Linked DNA regions of Homo sapiens. The protein of the gene in region 3 purifies or fractionates together with the protein of the main gene of each other region. This does not show direct contact. Each region holds a gene or a part of one and is shown on either strand. Other genes may lie near its edges. The genes, in order: ANKLE2, SNX3, UMODL1, APAF1, ITPRID2 and FNDC3A.

What was found.
Region 1: the proteins of UMODL1 (region 3) and ANKLE2 purify together in Homo sapiens (affinity purification with mass spectrometry; one large-scale study listed by BioGRID and IntAct). This does not show direct contact.
Region 2: the proteins of UMODL1 (region 3) and SNX3 purify together in Homo sapiens (affinity purification with mass spectrometry; one large-scale study listed by BioGRID and IntAct). This does not show direct contact.
Region 4: the proteins of UMODL1 (region 3) and APAF1 purify together in Homo sapiens (affinity purification with mass spectrometry; one large-scale study listed by BioGRID and IntAct). This does not show direct contact.
Region 5: the proteins of UMODL1 (region 3) and ITPRID2 purify together in Homo sapiens (affinity purification with mass spectrometry; one large-scale study listed by BioGRID and IntAct). This does not show direct contact.
Region 6: the proteins of UMODL1 (region 3) and FNDC3A purify together in Homo sapiens (affinity purification with mass spectrometry; one large-scale study listed by BioGRID and IntAct). This does not show direct contact.

What each region holds. Positions count from the first base shown.
Region 1 is NC_000012.12:132,727,773-132,732,346, reverse strand, and holds part of ANKLE2 (ankyrin repeat and LEM domain-containing protein 2), read left to right. Parts: intron 1-2,076; coding exon 2,077-2,668; intron 2,669-4,183; coding exon 4,184-4,315; intron 4,316-4,574. UniProt on the Homo sapiens protein: Involved in mitotic nuclear envelope reassembly by promoting dephosphorylation of BAF/BANF1 during mitotic exit.
Region 2 is NC_000006.12:108,226,024-108,231,182, reverse strand, and holds part of SNX3 (sorting nexin-3), read left to right. Parts: intron 1-5,159. UniProt on the Homo sapiens protein: Phosphoinositide-binding protein required for multivesicular body formation. Specifically binds phosphatidylinositol 3-phosphate (PtdIns(P3)).
Region 3 is NC_000021.9:42,069,443-42,075,073, reverse strand, and holds the start of UMODL1 (uromodulin-like 1 isoform 1 precursor), read right to left. Parts: upstream 3,758-5,631; coding exon 3,682-3,757; intron 1-3,681.
Region 4 is NC_000012.12:98,675,162-98,680,320, reverse strand, and holds part of APAF1 (apoptotic protease-activating factor 1), read right to left. Parts: intron 2,897-5,159; coding exon 2,770-2,896; intron 45-2,769; coding exon 1-44. UniProt on the Homo sapiens protein: Oligomeric Apaf-1 mediates the cytochrome c-dependent autocatalytic activation of pro-caspase-9 (Apaf-3), leading to the activation of caspase-3 and apoptosis. This activation requires ATP. Isoform 6 is less effective in inducing apoptosis.
Region 5 is NC_000002.12:181,897,062-181,902,220, reverse strand, and holds part of ITPRID2 (protein ITPRID2), read right to left. Parts: intron 3,342-5,159; coding exon 3,302-3,341; intron 3,208-3,301; coding exon 3,109-3,207; intron 1,526-3,108; coding exon 1,317-1,525; intron 456-1,316; coding exon 1-455.
Region 6 is NC_000013.11:49,205,515-49,210,673, reverse strand, and holds the end of FNDC3A (fibronectin type-III domain-containing protein 3A), read right to left. Parts: intron 3,594-5,159; coding exon 3,279-3,593; 3' UTR 895-3,278; downstream 1-894. UniProt on the Homo sapiens protein: Mediates spermatid-Sertoli adhesion during spermatogenesis.

The DNA.
Region 1 (4,574 bases), on a different chromosome or scaffold from region 3:
GAGAGCTTCACACGGTGCGTATCAGACACCAGGACGCAGAGAGCTTCACACGGTGCGTATCAGACACCAGGATGCAGAGCGCTTCACACGGTGCGTATCAGACACCAGGATGCAGAGCACTTCACACGGTGCGTATCAGACACCAGGACGCAGAGCGCTTCACACGGTGCGTATCAGACACCAGGATGCAGAGCGCTTCACACGGTGTATATCAGACACCAGGACGCAGAGCGCTTCACATGGTGTATATCAGACACCAGGACGCAAACGCAAAGCGCTTCACACGGTGCACATCAGACACCAGCATGCAGAGAGCTTCACACGGTGCATATCAGACACCAGGACGCAGAGCGCTTCACACGGTGCATATGAGACACCAGGACGCAGAGCGCTTCACACGGTGTATATCAGACACCAGGACGCACACGCAAAGCACTTCACACGGTGCATATCAGACACCACGATGCAAAGTGCTTCCAAAGCACAGATGCACTGAATGGAAAGAGCATGATGGAAGAGGTTAATCTACAAAATCTAAAAGTGATTCATAAAAACATCAACGATGGCCGGGCACGGGAGCTCAGGCCTGCAATCCCAGCGGCCGGGCGTGGCGGCTCACACTATAATCCCAGCACTTAGGGAGGCCAACGTGGGTGGATTGCTGAAACCCAGGAGTTCGAAGGCAGCTTGAGCAACATAGTGAGACTCTGTCTCTATTTATTTTTTTAAAAAAACAGAAATTTGCTAATAACTAGAGATTCGAATCTGCTAAAATACAAATTAAAGCAGATATACAGTTTAAACTGTGTGTGTGTGTGTGTGAGTGTGTGTCTGTGTGAGTTTGTGTGTGTAAGGTCATAATAGAACCATTAGCCCGCAAGACACTTCATTTATAAAACAAACTCCCTGGAATGATAGAAAATGAAAATGATTGACATACATTAAACTAAGAAGCAGTGAATCTTCAACAGTCACGACCTGTGACTCTGAACCACAGAACTAGAGCGACGTCAGTGCCGTCGTTATACAGGAATCATTGAAGTCTGACCTTGCTGTGTTGTAGCTGATGGTGGCACAGAACTCACTTCTGTAAAGCGGCCTCATTTACAGTGTTGTCTTGTGACTATGTACATTTTAATTAGTAAATATTAAATAAAGTTGAGGCATTTCCTAAGTAGCAGGAGCCACAGCTCAAGTGTTCTGGATCCTCCTGTGGCCGCGGCCACCATCGTGAACACCAAACGGGACATTTCTGTTGCCTGTCGCACAGTGCTGCGCCCGGGAGCTCTTCTGTGTTATCTTCACACCTAAAGCGCAGCAGGGTTACTTCATGGAGTTGTTCTGGACGATCTTCGGGATCCTCTGGGGCACTGTGACACTCGGAGCCCCTGGGGTCGCAGCAGATCGGAGCTGGAGGGTGGCTGGGGGTGCAGGGCAGTCATCTCGCCCATCACCTGGGCTGCCCTTGGCGTTTTCATGTCCCTGCCTTTGAAAGAAAAGTCAGCCTGGCAGCTTTATTTCCCTCCTCGTCTGAAATAGGGTCTCACTCTGTGGCACAGGATGGAAAGCAATGGTGCAGTCACAGCCCACTGCAGCCTCCCCCTCCTGGGCTCAAGCGATCCTCCCACTTGAGCCTCCCAAATAGCTGAGACTACAGGTGCGTGCCACCATGTCAGCTAATTTTTCTATAGAGAACGGGGTTTCGCTATGTTGCCCAGGCAGTCTTGAACTCCTGGGGTCCAGCGACCCCCCTGCCATGGCCTCCCAGAGTGCTGGGATTGCAGGCGTGAGCTTCTGTGCCTGGCCCCAGCAGCCTGATTGTGTCTGGAGGGTCCTGTTTGCCCTTTTCCAGGGAGTCGTGTGGGTGGTTTTCCATCCTGAAATCTGATGAGGAGGTTTTGGATGCAAGAGTTGCTGTTGCTGGGGTCACGGCAGTTGGTCGCGGATGGAGTGGGGAGGTTTTGGGTATAAGAGTTGCTGTTGCTGGGGTCACGGCAGTTGGTCATGGATGGGGCGGAGCAGCTCCGTGGCTTCCTGTCGTTCCCATCACTGAAGTGCTCCTTGTTGTCCTCACAGGCAGCAATTCCATTTCCGTGAGGGCGTTTCTAGATGAAGATGACATGAGCTTGGAAGAAATAAAAAATCGGCAAAATGCAGCTCGAAATAACAGCCCGCCCACAGTCGGTGCTTTTGGACATACGAGGTGCAGCGCCTTCCCCTTGGAGCAGGAGGCAGACCTCATAGAAGCCGCCGAGCCGGGAGGTCCACACAGCAGCAGAAATGGGCTCTGCCATCCTCTGAATCACAGCAGGACCCTGGCGGGCAAGAGACCAAAGGCCCCCCGTGGGGAGGAAGCCCATCTGCCACCTGTCTCGGATTTGACTGTTGAGTTTGATAAACTGAATTTGCAAAATATAGGACGTAGCGTTTCCAAGACACCAGATGAAAGTACAAAAACTAAAGATCAGATCCTGACTTCAAGAATCAATGCAGTAGAAAGAGACTTGTTAGAGCCTTCTCCCGCAGACCAACTCGGGAATGGCCACAGGAGGACAGAAAGTGAAATGTCAGCCAGGATCGCTAAAATGTCCTTGAGTCCCAGCAGCCCCAGGCACGAGGATCAGCTCGAGGTCACCAGGGAACCGGCCAGGCGGCTCTTCCTTTTTGGGTAGGAGTGTGTTGCCCTCTGCACTCACTTTCCTTCCCCACCTTCCCTCCCCCCTCCCCCTCCCCTCACCTCCCCCTCCCCTTCCCCTCCCACCCATCCACTCCCCTCATCTCCCCCTTCCCTCACCTCCCCCTCCCCCTTCCCTCACCTCCCCCTCCCCTTGCCTCCCCTCCCCCTCCTCTCACCTTCCCCTCCCCTCCCCCTCCCCTCCCACCCTCCCATTCCCCTCATCTCCCCCTCCCCTACCCCTCCCCTCATCTCCCCCTCACCTCCCCCTCCCCTATCCCCCCACCCCATCCCCTCGACTCTCCTCTCCTCTCCTTTCTTTCAGATGGAGTCTTGCTCTGTCGCCTAGGCTGGAGTGCAGTGGTGCGATCACAGCTCACTGTAACCTCCACCTCCCAGGTTCAACCAATTCTCCTGCCTCAGCCTCCTGAGTAGCTGGGATTACAGGCGCCTGCCACCACGTCTAGCTGATTTTTGTATTTTTAGTAGAGATGGGGTTTCGCCATATTGGCCAGGCTGGTGTCGAACTCCTGACCTCGTGATCCACCTGCCTCGGCCTCCCAAAGTGTTGGGATCACAGGCGTGAGCCACCGCACCCGGCCTCCACACAAGCTTTTGTGTGGACTTGCCGTGTGCGTTCAGTTCCTGTCTCTGAGTCCAGCTTCTAGATGCTCTTTCTGGGTCTTCCTCTGGTTGGACCGTGGGTGATCCTAGTGTTGGCTGTTATTTGCTAGGGATGTGCCTGCCAGTGGTGTGAATGATCTCTTCTAAATCCTTCTAGGAAGAAAAGCCATCTTGGGGTCAATCTCAATCTAACAGGGGATAAATGTCCCTAACCTTCTGGTACTGAGCACCCTCTGGGGGTGCAAGTATGCAAAACTGCATTTTAACAGCGGGTGGATCCTGCTACCATAGAGAATGCAGGCGTGCACCCAGAGGCGACTCCTCCCTGGCCCCTGCTCTTCTCATCACAGAACAGCGAGTCTGCATCCGCCTCCCTGGCCTTGGGAGATGCCTCCCTCTGCAGAGCTAATGCCCTGACATGCTGCTGCTGGTTCCCTGGTTCCATCTGCTCAGGCCAGATCGATCCTTGCACACTGTTGTTTTGTGTGCTGGGTTCTTGAGTTTAAAATGTAGTGATATTTGTCTGGGTGTGGTGGCTCACGCCTGTAATTCCAGCACTTTGGGAGGCCGAGGTGGGTGGATCACAAGGTCAGGAGTTCAAGACCAGCCTGACCAAGATGGTGAAATCCTATCTCTAATAAAAATACAAAAAATTAGCCGGGCGTGGTGGCAGGCACCTGTAGTCCCAGCTACTCGGGAGGCTGAGGCAGAGAATTGCTTGAACCCGGGAGGCGGAGCTTGCGATGAGCCGAGATCACGCCACTGCATTCCAGCCTGGGCGACAGAGCAAGACTCCGTCTCAAAATAAAAAAAAAAGTAGTGGTATTTTAGAAGTCTTTATGTTTTTACCAAAGATGTTTTTGCTTCTTTTATTGTGCTTTCTAGAGAGGAGCCATCAAAACTCGATCAGGATGTTTTGGCCGCTCTTGAATGTGCAGACGTCGACCCCCATCAGTTCCCGGCCGTGCACAGATGGAAGAGTGCTGTCCTGTGCTACTCACCCTCGGACAGACAGAGGTATGTGGGGCCCGGACAGCCTGTCACCCGCAGGGCAGCTTTTGGAAACTTCTGCAGGGTCCAGTTCCACTTCATGCGAACCTATCAGTGGCTTTTCCCAACGCTGGCAGGCCCGTCAGCCAGGCTGTGGATTTGGGTGTTGTGGCTCTCTGCACACAGGACAGAGCTCTGGTTGGGTGGAAAAGCTGAACGGGTCAGCTCCTGACAAGCTGAGGGCTAGAAGGGTGGAAGCAGCAGGGTTTCTACTCAGATCACACAG
Region 2 (5,159 bases), on a different chromosome or scaffold from region 3:
CAGTGAGCCGACATCGCGCCATTGCACTCCAGCCTGAGTGACAAGGGAGACTGTGTCTCAAAAAAAAAAAAAACACCACCAGAGGTGGGAGGATCCCTCCAGCCCAAGTGCCTGTAGCGCGCTAGGATGTTGCCTCTGTGCTCCACCCTTGGCAACACAGGGAGACCCTCTTTTTTTGCCTGTCTTCTTTGATAATGTTGGTGATCTATTTTATAGTTTTCCAAAGAAATGTTACTAAGTAGTGGTAACAAATTAACTAGCATTTGGCAAATAACAATTAACAAAGGCATGTTTTGAGTGTGGAATAACATAGTTTTATGGACTCAGTGGATTCCAGGAAACCAACTTAACTTTTTTGAGATGCAGGTAATTACAGTTCTCTGCTCTTTTAATGTTAGTTTGGGCCCTGACATAAGCTTTAAGTGACTGTTAATATTGGGTTTCTAATATAGAACCCTTGAGAGCTATCCAGATTATTTGAGCCTCTGTCTTTGCTTCAGATTTATGATGAAACGTGATTTGCAGAACTTTTGAACTCCATGAACAAAATTGAAGTCTAAAGTAGTCCAGGGTTACTCAAACTCAGAATCTTCAGCATTTACTAGTATATACCTATACAAATAGATGAAGGCTGTGGCTTACTTTTTGGTTCTTGCCCTATGCTGTACTTTACTTTTGCTTGTCTCCCATCTTACCTGTCTGTGATCACTGTGCCCACATCGGCTGATCTATTGTTATTTCCCACAAATAACATATTTCTTGTATTTCCTACAAATATTATTTCATACAGATGGTTGTATTTAACACTTTTACCTGTTAAGAAATAAAATGAACAGTAGCTAGGAAGAAAATTGTGGCTTCCACTTTATACTCAGCCTGATACTAAGCAACTTCTCTTAAAATTAGGGGGAAAATATGAATATTAGAGTGAGAGAATACTAAATCTTGCTGTTTAAATTTCAAAAGTTTTAGTCATCTTAAAGTAAGTTAACAATATTTAAGCCTGATTTACATTTAATTTCAGAATTCAGCATTCTTTCTGGGTAAATCTAGAGCATTTAAAGTGGCATCCAAGATAAAACCTTTAAGGGATTTTTGCTGTAATTTGCCTCAGTAGTCTGACTCTTGTCCATACATTTCAAAGCAGATAAACCTAGGAATCAACTAGAGCCATCTGTTCTTAATTCTACACCTTAATGCTACATGCAGCTCATCTGTGGCTTCTACTTCTGTAGTAACTTCTCTGTTCTATTTTTTCTGTTCATAGCTATCATTTTTCTATTCAAACATATTTATTAACTCCTGATGCTCACAGGTAGTCACCTTAGCCCCATATTTAGAGTGCAATTTAAACTTTTCAGTTTTATTTCCCATCATTCCCTATGCTTTAGAATATTCAAGAATTATATACTAAATATACACTGTACTTGTTTCTTCTCTGCATTTAGCTCACACTATTTTCACCATTTTCAGCTGTCTTATAGTATGGCTAGCTCTGTGTTAAAAGAGTCCTGGCTGAGGCCATTGCACTCGCGCCATTTTACCCTAGCATGGGCGACAAGAGCGAAACTCTGTCTCAAAAACAAACAAAACGAAAAAGAGTCCTGACTGGCCGTACGCAGTGGCTCACACCTCATATTCCAGCACTTTGGGAGGCTGAGGTGGAAGGATCCCTTGAGCCCAGGAGTTCAAGACCAGCCTGAGCAACTTAGGGAGACCCTGTCTCTAAAGGAAGGAAGGGGAGGGAGGGAGGGGGAGAGGGAGGGGAAGCAGAGAGACTGAGGAAAGGAAAGAAAAGGAGGGGAAAGAATGAATGAATCCGGGCCAAATCAATTGTCAATTCTTCCGTGCTTTTCATATTATACAAATGGTATTATGCTATATAATATACTGTTCTGAAACTTTTTTTTTTTTTTTTTTTTTGAGGTGGAGTCTCGCTCTGTCGCCCAGGCTGGAGTGCAGTGGCATGATCTCACCTCACTGCAACCTCCGCCTCCCGGGTTCAAGCGATTATCCTGCCATAGCCTCCGGAGTAGCAGGAATTACAGGCTCGTGCCACCTCACCCGGCTAATGTTTGTATTTTTAGTAGAGATGGGGTTTCACTGTATTGGCCAGGCTGGTCTTGAACTCCTGACCTCAAGTGATCCACCCGCCTCAGCCTCCCAAAGTGCTGGGATTATAGGCATAAGCCACCGCACCCAGCCTGAAACTTTTTACATGTCATACATTCTAGACAGCTTTTCTGATTAACCTATGGCTGAGTTATATTTTGTAAAAAGCTGTGTAATATAAGCTTGTAATGTAAGATTTATTGTTTCTGGTCTTTTTTGGGGTTTTTTTTTGTGTCTATTACAATGCTAAAATATTTTTGTATGTGTGGAAATATTTGTAGGATTAATTCCCATTGAAATTGTTCATTCAAAAGTTATGTGTATTTAATAGAGTAATGGATAATGTATTCACCAAAATGCCCCCCTTTTTTTTGAGACCGTCTCCCTCTGTCACCCAGGCTGAAATACAGTGAGTGATGTGATCACAGCTCATGCAGCCTCAGCCTCGAAGGCTGAAGCCATCCTGACACCTTATCTTCCCACTACAGGCATGTGCCACCATACCCAGCTAATTTTTTTTTTTTTAAACAGAGTTTCGCTCTTGTTGCCCAGGCTGGAGTGCAGTGGCGCAATCTTGGTTCACTGCAGTCTCCGCTTCCCGGGTTCAAGCAGTTCTGCCTCAGCATCCCGAGTAGCTGGGATTACAGGTACCCGCCACCATGCCTGGCTAATTTTTGTGTTTTTAGTAGAGACAGGGTTTCACCATGTTGTCCAGGCTGGTCGCGAACTCCTGACCTCAGATGATCCACCCGCCTTGGCCTCCCAAAGTGCTGGGATTACAGGCATGAGCCACCACGCCCAGCCTGCCCAGCTAATTTTTTATTTTTTGTAGAGATGGGGGTCTCACCATGTTGCCCAGCCTGGTCTCAAACTCCTGTGATCCTCCCACCTCAGCCTTCCAAAGTACAGGGATTACAGGCTTGAGCCATCATGCCCAGCCAGTTTGTAGTATTTTTAACCATGGAAATTCAACTTTTTATATGCTTATTTTCTAACCTTGATTGGTGTATGTTTCATAAGGGCCAGGTCTGCATCTTATTCATCATTATAAATAATGATTCTCCCTTATCTAGCATGGTGCCCTTTTATAGATGATCAGTAAATAATAGTTTAGTCCTCCTGAAGCTGTAGGTAAAAAACCTCTCCGCCCTTCAATCATTTTATGAAAGTTAAATAAATTGAAAGTGACCAATCACAGGAGTTTCAGCAGTGATAGTTCAGTACCTTAAACAACAACAACAACAAAAAAAAAAAACCCACATTTTGCACTTAGTTATTTTAATCAGTTACATTGAATTACAAATCCTTGTAATGATGAGGAAGACGTTTAACAGGCTAAGTTAACCACTGCATATGTAATGGGCAAGTGATGTTTGAATTTCTTGATGTGACTTTAAACTCTAAAGCAGTCCTCATGCAAAAAGAGAAATCATAACCAGTTAAGAAAACTAAAGGAACTTTCTTAAGCTAATCATGGTCCTCTAAATTTAAGTATATAAACTATCAAACTATTAGCTAATCATAGAAGGGAAAGTACTTTTCCCCCTCACCCCTCCCCTTTCTGTTAGAGTGAATCAGATATAATCATGATTGTGTCAAAAGTTCAAAAGGGAAAATGGAAGGTAAAATGAGCTGAATTGGCACTCTTCTCTCAACATTGTACCTGTAAGCTTGATATGTTGTTTCAGAGATTAACTTTATAGACTTCCGTACCCAGAAGTATGAAAATTCTTAGGGGACTCTTTTCGCAAGCTTGATCTTAACGTATTTGAATAAAGAGAGCAGTTAATCCCCTTTGTAAAGTAATTTGAGAGGAGGGAATTCAGAATGTAAAATCTCACCTGCAGAAAACACTCAACTCTGTAAAGGCCTTTTTATCTTTAAGGCATTTACAAAGACTTAATATTTTAATGCGGAAGGGTGAACTTGGTTAAAAAGCCAATAGGTGAAATTAGAGAGAAATAATCCAGTGCTTTCTTTCTGGGAATTATTCTACTCTCCAGGGGACCTAATTTTATTCCCTGTGGGGAATGAGAATACCCTCTGTACAACAAGCCAGCATCTTTAAATATAAGCTTGACTTTTAGTATAATAAGAGTCTTGTTAGGTGCAATTTTTTCCTTAGTCATTTATACAATGAACAAATGTTGTGGTTACCTGGGAAAGAAAATTCAAGTGCTTTTAAATCTCTTGTGAGATTTGGTTTCATGCTTGAAACCTATACACTGTTATGCCCAATAGCATCTGTTGAAAATTCTGAGCTGTAAGGTATACAACATAGAGAAGTTAATACACTTAGGAAAAAATTGAGACCACTACAAAATGGATTTAAGGGCCTGAATTAAAAGCTTTTCTTGTGCTGAGTGACAGCTACTTACCAGTAGCATTAAGCTTAACAAATAAGTAGAACTTTCTTAGGAGTGAATATTACAAGATGATGTCCCTGTATACACAGTAGGAAGCCAGTCTTTCCTTCAGGTGGCACTTAACTTTTTTCTTCCAATTGTAAAACACTTTTTAGTTCTATGCAAATTCTGTGCTAATTAGTTCAAAGTCTGAATTAACGGACAGAATATAATCTAAGAGAATATATAGTGTTGAGTAGTATTTTTGGTAGGGTATGGCATTAGTTATTATGTTAAGTCATTTCTGTCTCCTACAAACTTTGTGATAATTTGCACATTTTAAAATCTTTTTGGCTGGGCACGGTGGCTCATGCCTGTAATCCCAGCACTTTGGGAGTCCAATACAGATGGATTGCGTGTACTCAGGAGTTCAAGACCAGCCTGAGCAACATGGTGAAACCCTGTCTCACCAAAAGTACAAAAATTAGCCAGATGTGATGGCATGCGCCTATAGTCTGAGCTACACAGGGGGTTGAGGTAGGAGAAATCACTTGACTTGACCCTGCCATGATCATGCCTCTGCTCTCCAGCCTGGGTTACAGAGTGAAACCCTGTCTCAAATAAAATTCTCAAATAAAATAAAATCTTTCTTCTCCTTTTTTTTTTTTTTTTTTTTTTTGAGAGAGAGGGTCTCATTTGTTG
Region 3 (5,631 bases):
ACAAAAAATTAGCCGGGAGTGGCGGTGGGCGCCTGTAGTCCCAGCTACTTGGGAGGCTGAGGCAGAATGGCGTGAACCCAGGAGGCGGAGGTTGCAGTGAGCCAAGATTGCGCCACTGCACTCCACCCTGGGTGACAGAGTGAAGACTCCCTCTGAAAAAAAAAACAAAAATAAAAAATAAAATAAAAAATTGTGGTGGCTGGTGCCTGTAATCCCAGCTACTCAGGAGGCTGAGGCAGGAGAATTGCTTGAACCCAGGAGGCGGAGGTTGCAGTGAGCCCAGATCATGTCACTGCACTCCAGCCTAGGTGACAGAGCGAGACTCCATCTCAAAAAAAAGACCAGTTCAACTTTTCAGCCGTTACCACTGTGATCAGGAGGAGGCACAGTCACCCCCGCTGCAGGACAAGCATCAGGTTTACCCTATTGGGCCCCACATATCTCTCACTGGAGCCTGGTTCCTTTACACAAGGCCCATCGCCCCTCCATCAACGTGATTACTCCGTTCTCGAGACCCCTGGCCCCATGACATTCACCACGAGACTCTTTGGTCATGGACATCCCCTGACGTGGTGCCTGGGCTTCCCATCTCCCCGGGAGCCCCTACTGCCTAGTTTGAATTGATTGTGTTCCTCCAAAAATTAGTGTGTTAAAGTCCTAAACCCCAGTAACTCAGAATATGACCTTATCTGCAGTAATGTCTTACAGAGGGTATCAAGTTAAAGTGGAGACATTAGGGTGGGCCCTAATACAATATGACTGGCCCTTATACTAAAGGGAAATGTGGAGACAGACAGGCACACAGGGAGAAGGTAGAGACCAGGGTGATGCTTCTACCTGTCAAGGAACACCAAAGATTGCCAGCAGCTCCAGAAGCTGGAGGCCCGGAGCAGAGACTCCTGCAGGGGCTCGGGAGGAGCCAGCCCTGCCCGCAACTTCATCTTAGACTTCCGGCCTCCAGACCTGTGACCGAATCCATTTCTGCTGTTTAAGCCACGCAGGCTGTGTTTCTTTGTTACAGCAGCCCTAGCCAGTGCACACAGGGATGGTGAAGGGTCCCCTCCAGCTCCCCCGTGGCACCTAGCAGGGGGCCCTGAGTACATGGACTCTCAGTGCAGGATGAACGGAGGATTTGACATACAGTGCTTGCATTTCAGACACTCAACCCCTGAGCTCTAAGCTTTACTAGACTGTACCCCCAAGAGGTGGGGGCTCAGTATTACAGTTGATTTCCCTCAATGAGTAGCTGGATTGATTTCTGGGGAGGAACACAGAGATGGGAGCAGAAATGATCACAAAACCACTGCTGTCCTTATTCGCTCCACTGGGGCAGCATCTCTGAAGATTCCCTCCTTGGACCTCGCAGCAACCTACAAGTGTGCAGAAAGCAGGACTCCAGGGGCTTGTTACTCACCCCAGGAAGAAATAGGGCAGAGCCAGCCCTCAAACACGGTGAGGGAAGAGGCTGCAGATTTGCTCTGGGCAGAACACAGGTGCTGGACCACACACTTGCTGCACAGCGACCCCACTCCACAAGCAACAGGGACTGGAGCTGCAACTTCCTCTGGGGGCTGAACCCCAAATCACCCTGCGGGCCCAGCAGGGCCTCTGGGGATGGGGACCACCTGCTGCTTGGCATCACCAGTGGGGTAGTTACTGTGAGCTCTGCAAAGGAACGGGAGGTCCTCATCGTACGGGGTGGAACAGGACAAATCAGCTTCCGGGACCAGGGCAGCTTGGCTGAGAGCCTAGAGGTGACTTGCATGAAGAACGGTGGAATATGGCCGGAAGGAACGCGCTCACCTACTCAGTGACCACGCCGAGCTAGGCAAAGGCCGAGGACTTCCTGCACCAAGAACTTAGCAGAGTGGATCTAGCTTGCGTTTTTCATCGTAACCTGAGCAGAGATGCCAACCACATTAAGGACACTTACAGCTCCTGGTCTCTAGAGAGGTGCCAGGGCCCCACCTGATCGTTACATGGCCCCAGCTGGTCCGCAGCAGAGCCGTCCTGCACACATGCGCACACGCACACACACACACGCGCGCGCGCACACACACACACACTCATCTCCTGTGGAACCCGGGAGATGTTTGCCCTGTTTTGTTTTTAACATTTTATCCGAGGTCACGTGCCATCCCAAGCCTGGCTTCTTGGCCAAGCCCAGAGAAGAAAGCAGTTAGCAGATCCTGCCATCCCGCAAAGACCCACAAGGGCCATCAGAGCAGGAGCCGGGGGTCTTGGATTCCGGTCTCAGAGATGGGAAAGCCTAATGCTCTGGGGCCAACAAGAGTCCTGGGGTCAGATGGACCTGTGCTCACACCCAGGCTCACAAACCCCTGTTGCATGATTGCGCCCATGTCATGCCCTCCCAGTGCCCCTCTCTTGTCATCTGTGAAATAACAGCCATGTCCTGTGGCTGCAAAAGGCTGAAGTGGGGTCATGCCTGTGAAGGCAGTGCTGGCACACAGGGAAAATTCGGGGCGACCACGTGTGGGGTTGCTGAGGTTCTGCCCCGTGTCCTCATATACAATGAGGGGTTCTGGAAACACCTCCTAAGACCTTCTCCAGCTTCCCAGGATACCCACCCATTATGCATCTGAACTGTGGGGTCTACACATTACCTGTTCCAATGGGAAAATCCATTTCACAAATCACAAAGCAAAATCCTGCTTCTGGGTGAAAAACGTTAAAGTAGTACAAAAACATAGTTGATTTTAGAAACAGAATGGATTCCTTTAAATTTGTAACTGAATATGACAGATTTTAAGAGGAAAATGATTTTAAAATTCCGCAGTCCCATTTCCCTGGATTCTGGGGTTTCAGAACTCCCGTGTGTTTTTAAGAAGCTGCCCTGCTCTCCGCATGCCTGGGAAAACTCCGGACAGAGCCCTGGTGCAGCCTCTGGCTCCTGTGGTGACTCTGCCCTGTGAGCTGTGTGGCCTGGGCAAGTCCCTGATCCATTCTGGGTCTCCCTTTCTTTTTTGTTTTTGTATTGTGGCTTTTTTTGTTTGTTTGTTTGTTTGTTTGGGGGCTTTTGCTCTGCCGCCCAGGCTGCAGTGCAGTGGAGCAATCTTAGCTCACTGCAGCCTGGACCTCCCAAGCTCAAGTGATCCTCCCATCCCAGCCTCCTGTGTAGCTGGGACCACAAGTGTGCACCACCATGGCTGGCTAATTTTTTTTTTTTTTTGGTACACATGGGGTCTCATGATGTTGCCCAGGCTAGGTCTCCTTTTTTTTTTAAATCTGTAAGTGAGGACTTGAATGCACCAAGGTTCAGGAGACCTTTCTTCTGCGTCTGTAGGAGCTCACTGTTCTCAGTGGGATCTGAGGACCCACAGCATCTGCATCACCCACAGACATGTAGAGTTCCAGGCCCTGCACCCCAGACCTGCTGGCTAAGAATCTGCATTTTACCCCCACGAACGCCCAGGTGATTCAGCAACAGGTTCCCACTGGGGGAGTCCTCTTCCCAAAACCCTACCCGGCACTCCTGCCCCACCTCCACAGCTGCTACCATGTGCGCTTACCAAAAAGCTTGTCCACAAAAGAACAGATGTCGCCTCTCCAAGCAGAGGCGTCCTTGCCTGCCCAGGTCTCCACAGGGGGCTGTCCTCATGAGACCCATGCCAGGAAGCCCCTGTCCTTAAGAACTGCCCATGCCAAGCCCAGACCCCTCACCTGTGAAGCCGCTGGCCTGGCTTGGGCCCACAGCACTGACCAGAGCCAGCAGTGCCAGCCCCGAGGTCCTGAGCATCGTCCGGCAGTGGTGGCAGTACAGGGCTCTGGGCCTCTACCAAGAAGCCTGGGTCTCTGCTACGCCAGGGCTCATAGGGGCCTGAGCTGCCTGGACCTGGAGAAACGGCCTTTCTGTCCCCTGTGCTGCTGCAGGTGGCAATGACTTCAGAGGAAGCACCGCTGGGAGCAGTCCCTTATGCCTGCTCGTTAACACCCACCATTGCCATGGCCGTTTCCCTGGGGGCTCCTGCGTGTCACAGCCTATTCTGCTCCAAGCAGATGGCATCTTTTAGGAAAGGTGAGTACCCAAAAGCCCAGACCGCATCGCTGGATCCCATCTCGTTGTTACGCAGAAAACACATTTGAGACTCATATCTGAGTCTCTCCATCAACACGGAGTATTCTCTTACCCTATCGTTCTGAACTGGCAGAAGAAAACAGCATCAAATCAAAGTGGAACATCACGTTCAGAAAAGCGTCCTTCACACGGTTCCACAATGCACTTCAAAAGTCACAAAAATGTCCAGGTGCTTTGACCCAGTCCTCTCCTCCCGGAGCTTGGGCTGAGAGCACGAAGCTGTGGTCACAGGGATGTGCATTACCTATTATGACTTAAAGTGGGAAATTACATAATTGGACAGCCACAGGAGAGTGGGAGAGTAATTATTACAGAGCATCTGGATGCAGCATTACACGGGCGTTGAAATGCTCACCATGAAGTTTTAGTAGCACAAACAAATACTTAACAATGTGAAGTCAAAACAGCAACGCATGCAATTTCATCTCCATGAAAGTGACAACTCTGTACAGTTATATAAGCATGGAGAAAACTCCAGAAAGGGCCCTGGGACAGGAAGAAAACATTTTGAGGAGTGATAAGAATACAGGTGATTAATGTTTTATTTCAGTAGTCATCATGGTATATGTGAAGTAGATTTCTAAATCTCATGTTAAGTTCTTTCTAGCTCATGATGTTTTCATACTGCACCGTTGATTGCCTCTCACTTCTTAGTGTTGACTGCTGAAGCCCAATTTTTAACATTGGATGAAGAAGATCTTGTTGATTTTACTGAGGAAACATTCAGATGAATTAACAAAGATTCACGTTGGCTGCATGGTTCGGGAGCATAATTCCCTGGTGTTCTAGATACAAAACGATTCCTCCAGAAGGGACCTTCTCGCCTAACTCCCGCACCAACGTTGCTACCTCTTTTATTCTCTGTAGATTAATCTCTGAGATGATGAACTGCTGCATTTGCTTGGCTAATGACTAAATGTCAGATGCCATGACAAGAATACAAAAAGGAGGCTGGAAATGATCTCACAGCAAAGGGGCTGCGTACAACGGGTGTCCTTGGAACACAGCAGCTTTTATAGAAAACCAAAAGCTTCACACAGAATTGGCTCATTAAAAAACGTTTTCATACGAAAAGAATAAATGTTAAAGCTATTATATAATACTCAAGGAAGTGAAATTTTATTAACACTAAAAGAATAAAAAGTATTATGATTTAAGTAAATCTGAACATTTTAAAATGCAAGATGAATTTGTATTATCTTGTATATATCATCTCAAAATGTTTGCTACTATAATGTATGAATGTCTATAAAATATCAAGGTAAATCAGGGATAATATTACAGGTTAAAACTCAAAATTCGTCTGGTGCACTGTTGTCTCTCATCTTCACGATTGCCCTATGAAATAGGTCCTTTGTCCCTATTATATAGGTGAGAAAACAGGTTCAGAAAGGCCACACAGCCAGTAAACAAGAGATTAAACCCAGGCTTGTCTAAGCCTCAAGCCGCAGTTCTTCACACTCCACTCCACTGCTGGTCTGTCATGATTTAACCACAGACCCCAAGACAGGGGAACAAAATCAAGACATTTTACC
Region 4 (5,159 bases), on a different chromosome or scaffold from region 3:
GCCTTGATTTCTAGAAGTTTCTCTCCTGTTTCAGCTTTGAACACCTGCACAAGTAACAATAAAATATTTTTTATAATAAACTGCTTAACTACTGGTCATCATTCAATAAAAATCTTTAAGTGAGTTTAATCATTGTCATTTTGCAAAACAGAAAGGAACCTTGGCAAAGCTACTCCCAAAATCAGAATTTCTGTCAGAATGTGTATGCCTTCACATAACTAGAGAACTATTCACTGTTACATGTTTGTAAATATCAATGAAAATGTTACAGGATCTTTGGGGTGTTGATTTTCTGGCCAGAAACTTCTGTGGCCGGTGGCGCCTTTGCCCAAGTTTTGCTTGGGCCCACTGGTCTTGTTTCACCCACTTGGCCTGACAGGCTGCATTCAGCTCACACTACCAGCCTGGGTCCCAAGCCTGCCAAGGGCGAGTCAGGCGTGGAACAGCGAGGCGTGTGTGAGTGAGCGTGGGGTCCAGCCACTGCGCACAGACGTGCTGACTGCTGCAGCGGGGCAGGCAGCTCCAGGTGCCAGCATGGGCTCTGGCTCTCTGTGAGGCTGTGGCTGGACCAGGCACACCACAAGCAGCTTACACGCTGGCACCGGGGAACACGGTGGTGCCCAGAAGCTTGGAGATGCCAGGAACCGCGGGGCCCCAAAGAGGGAGTCACAGCCCTAGCTTGGGGAGCTCCCAAGTCTGGGCTCCCCGAAGGGCCGCAGCTTTTCTTTACTTATCTTCACTTGCAATGCGGCAAGCAAGGGGCATGTCTCAGCCCTGTTTGTGTTACAGCTCTTTTAGCCTCACCATTCAGTGGGATCCCAAGTTCTTGTCCTACAACCAGGAAGAATGTGGTACGCTGACAGGTGGAAGGTGAGCAAGACAAACAGGAGCTTTATTGAGCGATAAAATAGCTCAATAAACCTGCGGGGGGCAGCTCCTTTCCACAGCTCAGGAGAGGGTAGCTCCTCTCTGCTAGGCAAGTCCTCCTGACAAGTGTTCAGCTATCAGCAGAGAGGGTAGCTCCTCTCTGCAGCTGGTCCTCCTGTCATCTGCACAGCTCTCAGCAAAGAGGGGGCACTAGAGTGGGTTGCTCCTCTCTGCAGCTGGTTGTCCCAGTGTCTGCTCAGCACTGGCTAAGCCCGAGGCTTTTATGGGCTTCAGAAGGGAGGAAGTACATGCCAACTGGTCCATGGGCAGACATGGGCAAGCCTGGAAAAGGCACTATAAGTTCCCACTCCAGTCCATTCAGTCCACACCAGCAGCCCAGCCCCCAGTCTTCAGGCCCTTTGTGGCCTGAAGGTGGGGCCTCATTGGTGACCCGCCCCCTTCCACCCAGGAACCTGTCTGCCTCCTGCTGCCATGAATGGCACCCAGGCTGTAGGTGCCAAGGGGAGCCTGCAGGCCAGTATCAAACTGCCCTCAGCACCCCCTTGGCTTCCCTCCTATGCTCATCAGCACCCAAAGTCCGGAGGGGGCCGAGGCGGCAGGGGGCTGGCATGTCAGCACTGCCCCAAGCATGTGCACATCTGGCCGGGCTGCAACAGCACCCAGGCTCAGCCCCAGCTTTGCTCTAAGATCAGAGTGGGTGCCAACAGTAGGGAGAAGTCAGGCAGCGGGAGCAGGCACTTCCAAGCCTACAAGGGCAGGGGGTCCTTCCAGGTCCCCCAAGAGTACAGGGATGCCTGAGTCTGCAGCCACCGCTTGGGCAGCTACAGCTGCACCAGGGGGAAGGGGTCCTGCCTGCTCTGTGGAGCCGGAGGCCCGAGCCTGCAGCTGTGGTTTGGGCGGCTACAGCTACACCCAGGAGGGCAGGGCTCTGGCCTGCTCCATGGAGCGGGTTCCCAGGTCCACAGCTGTGGCTTGGGCGGCTACAGCAGGAACCAGGAGCTCCTGCCCCAATTCAGAAGGGGTAGGGTTCCTGCTTGTCCCCAGCTACCGCCAGCTCCACAGAGCATGCAGCCCCAGCTGCGCCTCCCTGCTGCAGCCAGCATGATGGCAGCAGCCACTCCAGGCAGCCCGCCGCTGCCATCAAAAAGAAGTGTCAGAGCACAGCTTCAGCTCTTGAGACTATTTTGGCAAATTCTTAACAATCAAATAAAACATTTCATTTAATATGCATTCTCTCTGGAACTCAAAAGCCAAGATTAATAAAATTAGTAATAAAGTACACATATAGACATAAGCTATGGAGTCATAATCTTGCAAAGACTAAAAGTATCCTAAATACAAGTTTTAACTAATTTCATCATGTTCTCTGCAAAATCAAAAGGCAGAACACAAACATAAAGAAAAGTACTCATTAATATTTTCTGAAAACAAAGGGAATCTTAAAGGAAATTCTTTAAAACAACTTAGGAAATAGTCTAGTCCAGTTCCTATTTACAAGAAAAAAACCTATGCCTAAGACTTTGATAAAATAGGTATTTTCCTAATCACTGTTTTTTAATCACAGCCCTATTCCCTGTGCTATGAAGCCCTACGTCTTCTAACAATTATTTCCTCACTACCCTTAGCTGACAAATGGATGGCTGGGAACTGACTGGCAGGGTAAAGGGCACTTCCTTACCACCTGTAAGTTTAGAATTAGGAAAACATGTAACTGTATCTTTTAAATCTCTAGAGAAACCTTTAATAAAATGTTCAAGAGAGCTGGATTCCTCTGTTATTTCTAAGTTGCAATTTTCTTGAATTTTAGGATTTAAACATATTCTGATCTGCACAAAACTGGATACATGCCTCTTTGCATTTTTCTCAAGAGATGTGTTTTACCTGTAAGGTTTTATCAGCTCCACAAGAAGCTATTCTCTGACCATCCTCAGAAAAGCAGGCATGGTAAACAGCATCTGTGTGGGGGCGGACAACTAAGCGGGAAAGATTCGTGATGTTTTTTTTGTTTCTAAATACAGGGAAAAAATGAACAGAAATTAAATAAATGAGAGTAAAAGTAACTATTTTCTTTCAGTACTAAAATAAACTGTCTTTTAACATGGTTATGTTCCCCAAAATACAAAATTCTTAAAATCAGATTACTAACATGCAAATGACAGCACAGATCACCAAAAGAAAAAAAATAACAAAAGTAGCATTTGTAAGAGAAATGTTACCCTTTATCAAGCAACCTGTCACGTGTTACAAATGTCACTGAGTTGGAAGAAATCTAATTAATCAAATTAATCAAATCTAGTTAATCAACATGTCACTTTCCATTTTCCTTTGATACATTAATAATGATACATGTGCAGATAAATCATTATATAAGGATACCTTCAAAAATTCTCCATCTCTTTTTTAAAATAAAAATCATAGCAAAATGCTCATTTCCTAACTGAAGGAAACACCCACCATTATTATGATGTACTTTAAAGCTGCTCTTCTCAGCCAGGCGCAGTGGCTCATGCCTGTAATCCTAGCACTTTGGGAGGCCAAGGTGGGTGGATCACCTGAGGTCAGGAGTTCAAGACCAGCCTGGCCAACATGGCGAAACACCGTCTCTACTAAAGATAAAAATTAGCTGGGTGTGGTGGCACGTGCCTGTAATCCCAGCTACTTGGGAGGCTGAGGCAGGAGAATCGCTTGAACCTGGGAGATGGAGGTTGCAGTGAGCCAAGATCGCGCCACTGCACTCCAGCCTGGGCGACAGAGCAAGACTCCATTTCAAAAAAAAAAAAAACTGCTTCTCTCAAACTACAATTATTCAGACATACCAAAAAGATAAAGCAACATCATATTCTTTGTATCTCAATCTAATGAATATCAACTATTCCACCAGTATAGATATTATATTACTGCTCATAGTATCTAAAGTATAAAGGGGCCAGGCATGGTGGTTCACACCTGTAATCCCAGGACTTTGGGAGGACGAGGCGGGCAGATCACTTGAGGTCAGGAGTTCGAGATGAGCTTGGCCAACATGGTGAAACCCCATCTCTACTAAAAATACAAAAATTAGCAGGCATGGTGGCACACACCTGTAATCCTAGCTACTCGGGAGGCTGAGGCATGAGAATCGCTTGAACCCTGGAGGTGGAGGTTGCAGTGAGCCAAGATCATACCACTGCACTCCAGCCTGGGTGACTGAGGGTCTGTTTCTAAATAAATAAATAAATAATAAGGTGTAAAGGAATGTAATGTATACTTAAACCAGAAAAAACTATTAGTGCAGTGACAGAATTTCATATACGTTACATCCCTGTCACTTTGAGTACAAGTAAATATGTCAAATAGTATTGTGCTTATTTTAGAAATCAAGGGTTGGCAGTCAGACAAACCTAACCTCATTTCTAATACTTATTAGGTGTGTAAATGAGCAAATTACTTAACCTAACAAGTTTTTATTTCTTCATATGTCAAATGGAAGTAATGGTATCTATTCTAAACAGCACCCGACACATAAAGGTGCCACTACTATCATTCTTCAAAAAACTTAACCACACACAAGACAGATCAAGTGATAAAAGTGAACACAAAGGTAAATCATATTTAGATCCTGCCTACAAAGTATTACACTTTAGTAGAAGTGATAAAACAAACAAGTACAGTTGTTCCTCAGTATTGATGAGGGATTGGTTCTAGGACCCACTACAGATACCAAAATCCATGGATGCTCAAGTCTCTTACATAAAATGGTATAGGATTTGCATGTAACCCACCACATCCTCCTGTATACCCTAAATCATCTATAGATTACTCAAAATACCTAGTACAATGTAAATGCTATGTAAACAGTTGTAATACCATCGTGTTTAGGAAATAATAACAAGAAAAGAGTCTGTACATGTTCAATACAAACATAACCATCTACTTCTTTTCTAATATTTTCAATCCAGGTTGGTTGAATCTATGGATATAGAACCACGGATATGGAGGGTCGACTGTATAATATAAGAACTAGAGTGATGACAACTAGAAGAACAGATAAGTTCTAGCAAAGTTAAGAGGATTAGATTTTAAAATGTTCTTTATGTCTGCTTGATCTATCTACTCAATTCCTCAAAGCTCAGAAAGTGACTTTCATAATAAAGGATATATAGTAGATGGCCCAAAAGTACTAGACAAATAACAAATGAATGAGTGAATAAATAATTTCATTGAAAACAGAAACTCAATTAAATTTAAGCTTATACCAACCTAAACCTTTCTATAGTAAACACCAAAAAAGT
Region 5 (5,159 bases), on a different chromosome or scaffold from region 3:
TTGGTTAAAATTACTATTTGCTTCATCAGAAATTCTATCACTATCAGCATTCTCCGTAACAGCTGCTGAACTACCAGAGACTTCTTCTTTAACTGTAGCCAACATAGAAGATGACTCTTTCTTCTTCATAATTTTTTGAGACTTTTGATCGTTTTTATTGCCACTTTCTTCAATCACTGAAACATTTAGAATCTTTCCTTTTTCAGCTGATGGAGAAGGACTACTACTTTCTCCTTTCTCTGTTTTATCAACACATAAATTCAGTTTTGAGAGTGTTTTCATTAAACGATTTGCAGTGTTACTTCGAGTTAAAGGTGGAGGTGGGTCTGTCTCCTTGTTAGAGGTCACTGAGGACATACTTCCAATTCTCTGCAGGGGCGTCCCGGAGACTTGAGAATATAAAGAAGAAAACGCATTGGCCACAGTAGTAAGCACTTCAATTTGACGAAAACGGCCTACCAAAAGAAACAATATTAATGATATGTTTATATTTATATATATACATACACATATATTAAATGCATATTATTGTTTAGAATTCCAAAAACTACACTTAGATCACAAAGATTATAAAACCCTATTTTTTCCTCATCTAACACTTAAACCTTCTCTACATTCACTGGGTGGGAAGGAGCAAGATTTTTACTCTAAGCACTAGAATTTGTATTTTTAAAAAATCAGAAATAAGCACAAAGCATAATGGCAACATTGAATAAAACAGAAAGAACTAGCTATTGAATCTACAGTTGTGATTCTATTCTGAAGTCTTGAACTCCATTAAGACTCTTTCAAAATTCTCCTAAGAAAATGCATGTAAGCATATATTTTATACCTAATTTGCAGGGTGAGGGATTTATTGATCTCTTAAAACTGATCCATGAACAATGCAGGATTGGAATCCTATTTTTGGAATCTTTGGCTAACAGAAAGAAAACAAGCAAAGATATGAGTGAAACTGATCAAATTAGCCAGACTAGTTCCTGAAACAGACTGACTTCATTTAAGATTAACAAGGCTCCTCTCCTACTTCTTTTCTTCTTGAATAAAAGCAATCTGTAGACAACAATAAGGTTCTGCAAATAAGTTATGGTAGCACTTAAGTCAGGAATTGGGGAGGAGGGGAAAAATAGGCAAATTAACCACTATAAATGGAGTAATAAAATAGCTTAATTTTAACATGTAAAAATGGCTTTTGCGTTAATCAATCTCTTTACTTTCCAGTGCTATTCCTGAAAATTAAGGCTTTAAAATAAGACCATCTTGCTGTAGATGCTATAATTTAAGAAAATAATATGCCTAACACTTAAAAATCTTACTTGTTAAAGCATAATTTGGGTTTTCTACTTCCATCCGTTGCATCTGAGCACTCAAAAATACTTTAATATCTATCCCTTTGGCAAAGGATGATGAATTAAAAAATCTGGAAGGAATTTTAGAAGCAATATCTGGTTCATCACGTCCAAATCCAAGATTATAAAGAATTTCTTCAGGATCTTCCTCATAAAGTTCCAACAATTCTGAAACACTACAAAAAAAGGGGGCAAAAAAGGAAACATGAAAATATAAAATAAATTGATAGTCCACACCACATTATAAATGAATACATATTACTGATTTCCTGTGATAAAATCTTTTTTCTCAGCTTCTGCTCTGGAAACCATTATTTATTTTACCATGTTTACACATGTGTACTGGGGAATAAATAGCCCTTATAAAGGGTTCATTGTCTCAAGTTGCTAGAGTTGCAGAAAAGAGCTAACCCCAACGAACACAGTCAGAGATTCCCTACGTGATTCCTCACCTTATTTGTTTTGTCATTTTAAGAGATTCCCTGTAAAGCAGCTAAAACAAGTAGAAGACAGATGATGAAGAATAAGGAATGAACAGATTAAAGCAGAAATTAAAAGGAACTGAGGGACATTTTGTGAAATTTGAGCTTTTCTGTTATCCTTGTCCTAGGAGTGGCAATTGTCCTAGGAGGAACAATAAAGATAACAAGCTGATTTCAGAGAAGCGAGGGAGGAGCTTACTTTCAACTTCTCTCCAACCACTTCCACTCAGGAAGTAGGAGGAGTAAGGTACAGAGAGTGTGGGTTACACAAAGGTAACTACTCTAATCCTATTGGGAATTAAATATTTAGTATCCCTTCTCTCTCATACCAGTGATAATCCAAGCTTTCTAAGACTCACTGAAGAAAACAGGAAAGTTAGAGATGGAACTTCAACAGAGAGACATTTCAATTTGTTTCAGACAAAATGCTCAGATTCTAATATTATAATTTGGATAACAGTTTAAACTGGATTCCATAGGCACATGCACTGATGTATTTTAATATACTATATGTGCGGGCGGGAGAGGGGCAAGGGTATTTTTCTGTTTGGCTTTTTTGAGACAGCGTCTCACTCTGTCAGCCAAGTTGAAATGGAGTGGCACAATTATAGCTCACTGCAGCCTCAACCTCCTGGGTACCACTTCAGCCTTCCAAGTGGTTGTGACTACAGGTGGATCCCACCATACCCAGCTAATTTTTGCATTTTTTGTAAAGACAGGGTTTCGCCGTTTCCCCATATTGCTCAGGCTGGTCTTGAATTCCTAAGCTCAAGTAATCCACCCACTTTGACACTCCAAAGCACTGGGATTACCGGTGTCAGCCACTGGGCCTGGCTATACTATATATTTGAAAGATCTTTGGTTTAATGTGTTGAAAAAAAGTATGCTTAAATATCAAGCTGTAACTTAGAAAAATTTATTCTGATTTTTGTGTCAGAGTTAACTCAAGTCCTTAACAATGAATTTTGGTTCTCTACAACTACAAGTTACTCCGCTATGGAGTTCCTCTTTCAGGCTGTTGAGAGGGCTCAAAATACTCATTTATGGGTTCCAGCAGCAGTATAAGCCTATTTATTGCATTTTATTTAATCTCAAAGTAAAACAAAACAAAACAAAACAAAACAAAAAGCTCCTATCAGTTGTGCTGGTACAGGAAACGCTCTTTTTGTGTTCTTTCTGATTTCATATGATCAAGGTCAAATCCAAGATTGAAAAAATGATAAGAGTAGGTCATCTATAGCACAATGTAATTCCAACACAATTTCAGAATAAGTTACCTTGAAACTGTCCCACTACTTTTCCCAGATCCAGTGGAATTCATACTTCTCCCTTTCTGATGAAACTGTAATCTTCTCTCTTTGGCCAAGATATTATTGCTACGAACAAAATCAGATTATATAAAACTTTATAACTTTATTTTCATTAAAGGTCTTCATTTTTTAAAAGAAATAGAACAAAACAGCTACATACCAGTTTTCAATTTGAGCATCACTTTCATGGAGGTGGTTGGCTACAGGTAAAAACAATAAACGTAGAGCACAATTGTTAGTAGGACTATAACTACTATGATACAATTATCAAGAAATCTAATTACCTACAATATTAGAATTAAATGCCAAATATATTAAACACTTATCTTGGTCCATTAAATCTGCATTATTAAAAGTGATATACAGATAGATAAGAACAGGGCCAGGAGCTTTTGAAGGGTGTTTTTGTGTTGTGGCAACATGAAACTAACTACTCTCACTTGAGTGCTTAAAATAAAAAAACGTATAGGGAACCAGTTAAATTTCTTTAACAGGTTAGAAATAAGTAATGAGGAAGATATGTACCATATATGTGGTACTAATTATTAAATTTAAAAGCTATTAATGAATAATATCTTAAGAGGAAAACATGATTTAACATTAAGTGTGGCAATAGTATATGTCAGTTTCTAATGTGAATTTTTTTTAAGGTTATAACTGATTTTTCACACATATAACATGAAAATTTCTACTTATTTCAATATAAACTTTCTTTTAAAAATTGCCTTTCAACTTTATGATAGAACTTTAGCTTAAAGTTCTAAACAGGTAAGTGTTAATGTTTAAAGTTAAATTTATAGACAAATACAAAGAATAAAATTAATTATAAACACATCTATTTCAGCACACATGAATTGCTTTTCATTTCTGATCTACAAAGTTATGACAATTTTGTGTTTCTTTGTACATCCACCAGAAAGGTGCCTAACTCACAGCACTCAGTAATTATTTACTTAATGAATGGAAATAGCCTTGAAATAATTTTCAGTAAAACAACATAATAGATTTACTCTTTCATGAGACTCCTTTTTAGGTTCTGGTTTCCAATAAAATCATTCAATATTATCAAACTACCAAGGCAAATATCAAAAGTGCAAAGTGCATTTTAATAACGGATTGACAACATGTTCAATTGTACTGAGTGGGAATCAGTAAGTTTAAGCTCTTTATAGAGCTTGAAAATATATGAACAGAAATAATAAGAACTAATATATTTGCATATTCCAGAGTTTTAAATGTTAGAAGGTTCTAAATAAGTAATTTACTTTACAGATGCATTTGAAACAGGAAAAAATCAAGAATATTAAATTCAATGTATAAATTCACTATTCACCAACTTGTAAGCTTTAAAGACTTTTTAAAAATCCTTGTTTTTTTTAAAAAAGTACACATTAATAACTGAGCTATACAGCTATGAATAATCTATGCAATTTGATCAATGAGCTATAAAATAGCTTTTAAAACACCAGTAAAATAATTAAAAATTCTTATTTTTTGTACAAGAAAGCTTTATTATAAATCTACTGGAAAACATTACATAACTTGTAAAAACTTTTAAATAGCACAACACACTTTTTAAAATCTAATGCTTTCTGGAATAAACACCAGCATGATTTCTAATAAAATTCTATTAGCTCTGCTATTTTGTCTTTCCCCTTTAATTTTCTAAAAATCAGGAAAATGGGGAAAAGACAGGAGACACTTAAATGCAAAGAGAAAGACAAGCTGCAGCTGTAAGTATGACATAAGTCTATTTTGCGCTAAAAATAAGCTTCAATTTTGTTTTCCCATGTATAAATATTTAAGTGTCCTTCCTTTTTCAGGACAATTCTTCCCTCAGTTATATTACCACGGTTTGTTACAAACTGTTCCTTTAAGCATTTAGTCCAAGAAAGACAGATGGACACTTCACATAGTTTTTCAGAGTCATCCCTACATGTATCCTACAGACTATGACTAGATTATTAACAAAGAAAGGTAATGTAAAATATGCCTGAGCCATTTTCAAGACCTTTAAA
Region 6 (5,159 bases), on a different chromosome or scaffold from region 3:
TGATTTTGCCCTAGACTTAATTCTCCACTGTGGCTGTGAAGGCTGGGGGCCAGAATATGGTGGTTTTCTTACATTGCCAAAGATGAAGACGAAGAGCTGCTAACAGTGAATCCAGAAAGCAATTCTTTGGCATTGGTCTACAGAGATAGAGACTCTGAAATTTGTCAAGCATATTAACCACTGAAGCCTGGAACAAAAGAAAACCTTCCCAAACACAACAGGTTTCTGGGACTTTTCATTTATCTATTATGAATGACAGCACTGGGCAAAGCTGAACAAAAACATGATCCTTCATCAGTACTGGGAAGTCTGGAACAGCTAAGCCTGGAGTGAAGGAGAGCTACGTGGTAGCTTGCCTGACAGTGTTCTTTAAACTGGTTGTCCTTTAATAGGACTCATGATTGTCCTCAACCTAGACCTTGAGCTTGAAGCTATGTACTTACCTCTTGAATAAAAAAAAAAAGTTGGCTTTATTTTAAACATTGAGTTCTCCTCTTTCCATATTGGCTTCTTCAGTGAATTTTTCAATGATTTTTTTATGGTGGTAAAATATTTATAACATAAAATTTACTAGCTTACCCATTAAAAAAAGAAAAAAAAAAAGGCACTGAGTGTCCATCCCCAGGAGGAAGTTCTTGGGATGGAAATTTTAATGGGGGATGAGTGAGAGAATGTTGGATTTTCTGGTGGAAGGCAGACCCAGCAGTGCCACTACCAGGAAGGTTCTGGGCCTCTGGTGGTGGGCGAAAGAAGGTACTAGAAAATAGGGATGTGGGAAAGGCAAGGAGAGGTTAGGGATTTTCTTCCCACTGGGAAGTTTACCTTAGACTCACTGTATTCTTTATATGTGGAAAGGAAGTAAGATATTTCATGAGTTGCACAAAATCAAGTCACTAGGATAAAACTTCTAATTTTATTCTTTACTGGGCTTTATATAATAAATATACATCCTCTCATGTTGAAGATTTATATACTGTTGGGAAAAATGTTTTAAGCTCATTGGAAGAGGGGAGACCATAACATTTCACTTTCTTAAACAGGTAGCAAATAATGAATATATATGAATACAATAAACGTATCTCAAAAAGAATGATACAACTTTTATTTTCCATGGATTTTACAGATACTTTTGCTACATAGTTTATGTATTTTTATGAGATTTTTTTCATTTGTATGAAGTTCATTCAGCCTTATACAATTTTAAGGTGATATGTTTGGTAGTGTATCTATAATCTTTAAAAAGTTTAGAGTTTTTGGAATGTACAGTATATGAGGTAAAATCAAGATTACATTAAAAATTGTTTTCTCCTCTGCACTAATTTTGCAGTGAGGCTCAAATGGCAAGTATACTATTAAATGACATTTACTATCAAAAATAGGAAGTTCATTTGAATTACTATGAAAAACATAAGCCACTGTAACTTGACACAGTGGCACATTTTACCATTTTAGACATTCAACTATATATAAATCTCTGGGCTATTACACTCAGACTCATTTGTACTGCCAAATGTGGCACTTTAAAGAAGTTTCTAGAAAACAATCGCAATCACTGTTGTTTCTGGGGAAGGTTATCACCCTATACATAAGAGATTAAATTTAAATAAAATGTAAACATACAGTATATTATAGTGACAGGTCATTCTTACCACTTAGAAAGGCCAAGTTTATCCATTTCTTTTTTGAACAAGGGTTAATGTTTTTCTACAGCACAGATCATTTGACATAAAACTGTTACAATACATGCCCATTCTATTATAAAAGAAATTCTTCAGAGATCTTCAAAGCACAAAAAATACGTTCTTTTTTCAAAGACTGACAGAAGTGCTTAATAATCACTAAAATGCCAACCTCAGCAACTAAAAATTAGTGATTCGCTATCCTAAAATTCAAATAATAAATTAAAAAAGCTAGTTACAGGTGTTTTACGGATAACAGATGTGCTAAAACAAGAATTGTAGATAGTTTCATTATAAACTGTATTATTACTTGCAGTCATCGACATCTAGGCAAGATGTACAATGTGATACTTGACAAAATTCAGTCTGATCATCCAATAACTCACAAATGCAAGCTCACAAAACATTAATGAATTATGCAATTGCAAAGTGCTCTAATGCAACATTAACCACATGCAATCAACAATTTGGAACAGTATCCAAACAGACATTATACGTTAAACGTTTAGTTTTCAAGAAAGAAAGCAGCTTGAAGTTTACTGGTGCAAATTAATTTTGTCTTCAGATTTGGTGCCCCAAACAAAAAGGTTAGGTTTGATTATGAATTCTGATGGTGGTGGCAGCAGTTATGGGAGAAGCAGCAGAAACTTATGGGAGTTCTTCAAAATTAGCCTATACCAGACAGAGTGAGTGTATGTATGTAATATATACTTCTACACTTGTTATGTGTATATGTGTACACTTGTTATATGCCATATATGTATGTGTATACCCTTATACACATACATATAGTTCAAAGGTTCACAAAACAGAAGCCAAATAGGTTTGAAATTCAATTTACTTTTATGATTACTTTCTAAAAAGTATTTAAAAGCACTCAATTCTTTTCCATGTTCTCAAGACCTGAAGAGGTACTTTTTGAGTAAACATCAAAATATTTTTAGGCCAAGTAAACTGTCTGTTCTTTAAGTACTTATCTGTGAATTCATGAATATATATTTATAATGAAGAACTCCACATTTATCAAAGAAGCTTTTCTTCATGCATACTCTTTCATCCAGTTTTTGTTTCTAAGCCCCTCCAGTTACTCATCATAATCCCACTTACCAAATAATTAAGACAAATGAGGAGGTAGAAATATAGCACTAGATTGCTTTCACAGCATCAGACTTTAACATTTTATATAGCATGTTAGTGTAAATTCTATTCATTCTGAATTTTTCACTTGGTAATAATCTTTAAAACAAACAGATCAGGTTATCACTGTTACACTCATGCCGATTCGTCAAAATATCCATTCTAAATTGTTGCCTCTTAGAAAGTTTTTCTATAAGAAGGCATTTGTTAAAAAAAGAGAGAGGGAAAGAAAAAAAGAAGACCCACCCTAACAAAAAAAACAAAATTGATATTTTTGTGGCTTGCATTCTAATAAAGTGCCAGCCTCTACCTAACAATATAAGCACTGAAAATGGCAAAAATGATGTGCTATAGTCTCAATGCCAGTGCTAAATGCCACTGTTTTTTATAAAAGCAATACAGAAATAATTTTAGTACATGACAAAATAAAATGTAATAGAGTTAAAAAATAAAGTTATATTTTCACTTGATTACAAAGTACTGAATGATAAAGGCAATCAAAATGGAAAAGAAAGCAAACAGCACAAGGATGACGGCAGCACACTGCTCGTCACTCAGTGCCCGTCGGGTCCTTGTGCTTTCCACAGTGTCTCTGTTGGTGCTGGCTGGTGGTTCAGTCCTCTGAGAGATGAAGAGCACTGTGGTGCTGTAGGGACCTACGAGGTCCTGGTGTCCCAGAGAGTCTTGGCACTGGCGAATGGCACATACACGGAAGCGATATTCACAGTTCAGCTGAAGGCTGGAATACCGGAAGGAAGAGTCGGGACCCTTGTAAATCTGTTAATAAAATATTAGAAGGAAGAATTACGTGTGAAGGCTGGACAGAAAATGTGTTAAAACTGGCTAGTGTTAGAATTGTTTTTCATGTGAAAGCCAGTGAATGCCATTGATTTTATCTTTTAAATGACATGTTAAAAATACCTGTCCATTAAAGTACTTATCTGTTTGTTGCATAGGGGCAAGAGAAATTTCAAAAGCGAGGATCTACCCTTATACGGTTCACAGATGAATTAAGGAGTGCAGATGTGCCCCAGGGCAGCTAGAGAACAAGCAAAATCGGTCCTCAAGCATTTTCTTGCTTTTCTCAAATGTAAGAAGTCATTTTTCAATGCAATCATTCCATCAAAGAAGGGATAGTGTCTACTTTTGCTTCCCCCATTATGTCTTTGTATAACTGATAAATTTCCATATAATTTCAAACATATCTGTACAATGAAATGGAAAATGAATAAGGGGAGCTTTCTATAGGTGCCTATGGCAAATCACTGTATAAACCAGAGAGGGGAGATCACTTAGAATCAGAAAATAGGACCTCCTCTGCCATGCCTCACAAGGGAAATAAAAAGAATGAAATTCCACGGATTTTCAGAGGAATGTGCTAGTAATTAACCCATTTATGCCAGAGGTTGCAAATTTTTTTTTTGTGAAAAATCAGACCTTGGCAATAACCTTGATCAGTGAGATATAAATAACTACCACAAGCTTAGTGTTCCAATAATGGAACACTAGGCATAAATAAGAAGCTATATACTAGAACTGTTCACCCCTGGCATCCAAGGTCTGCTCTACCACTTCACACTCCAGATGTGATTTTAGACCAACTACCTTAGTATAACAGACATACTAGTAGTTAACATGTATGATAATTATGAGGATGAAATGAACTAATGCTTGTTAAAGCACTTAGCGCAGTGCTCAGCATGCAGTCACTGCTCAATCTGTAGGAGCTATCATTTCCAATAATGAGCAACCTCCCACCACTCATTCTGTAATTGAGAAAACCAAGGTTCATAGGGTTAAATGACTTGTCAGTTGAGTTTCTCCAGTTAGTTGGTGGGCTACAAGTCAGAAGAACCAACACATGGGGGCTTTCAAGTACTTTTAGCTGCCTCAATTGTACCTGTGATGTAAATCTAAATTTTTACATATTGCTTTGCTCTCAAAGTAAAGTAAGATCTCTGTCTCATTTTTCTGTCTCCAGAATCTAGCATATAGTAGGTACTTAATAAAAGGACATTAAATTAGTGAATTATTGGCAATAAATAAAAATGTGGATGCTGATAACAATATATAAAGGAACTTACTGAAAGAAGCTTTAAGATAAATCTGAAAGAAAATGGTGACTATACATTAGTTCTAAGGATGCATAATGTTTCAGGGAATAGAATGTAGAAATGATCCATGTTTGGGAGATGGTACAGGTTGGGTATCCCTTATAAGAAATGCTTGGAACCAGAAGCATTTCAATTTTTTTGATTTTGGAATAGTTGCATATTTACTAGTTGAGCATTCCAAACCCAAAAATCTGAAATTGGAAATGCTCCAATGAGCATTTCCTTTGAG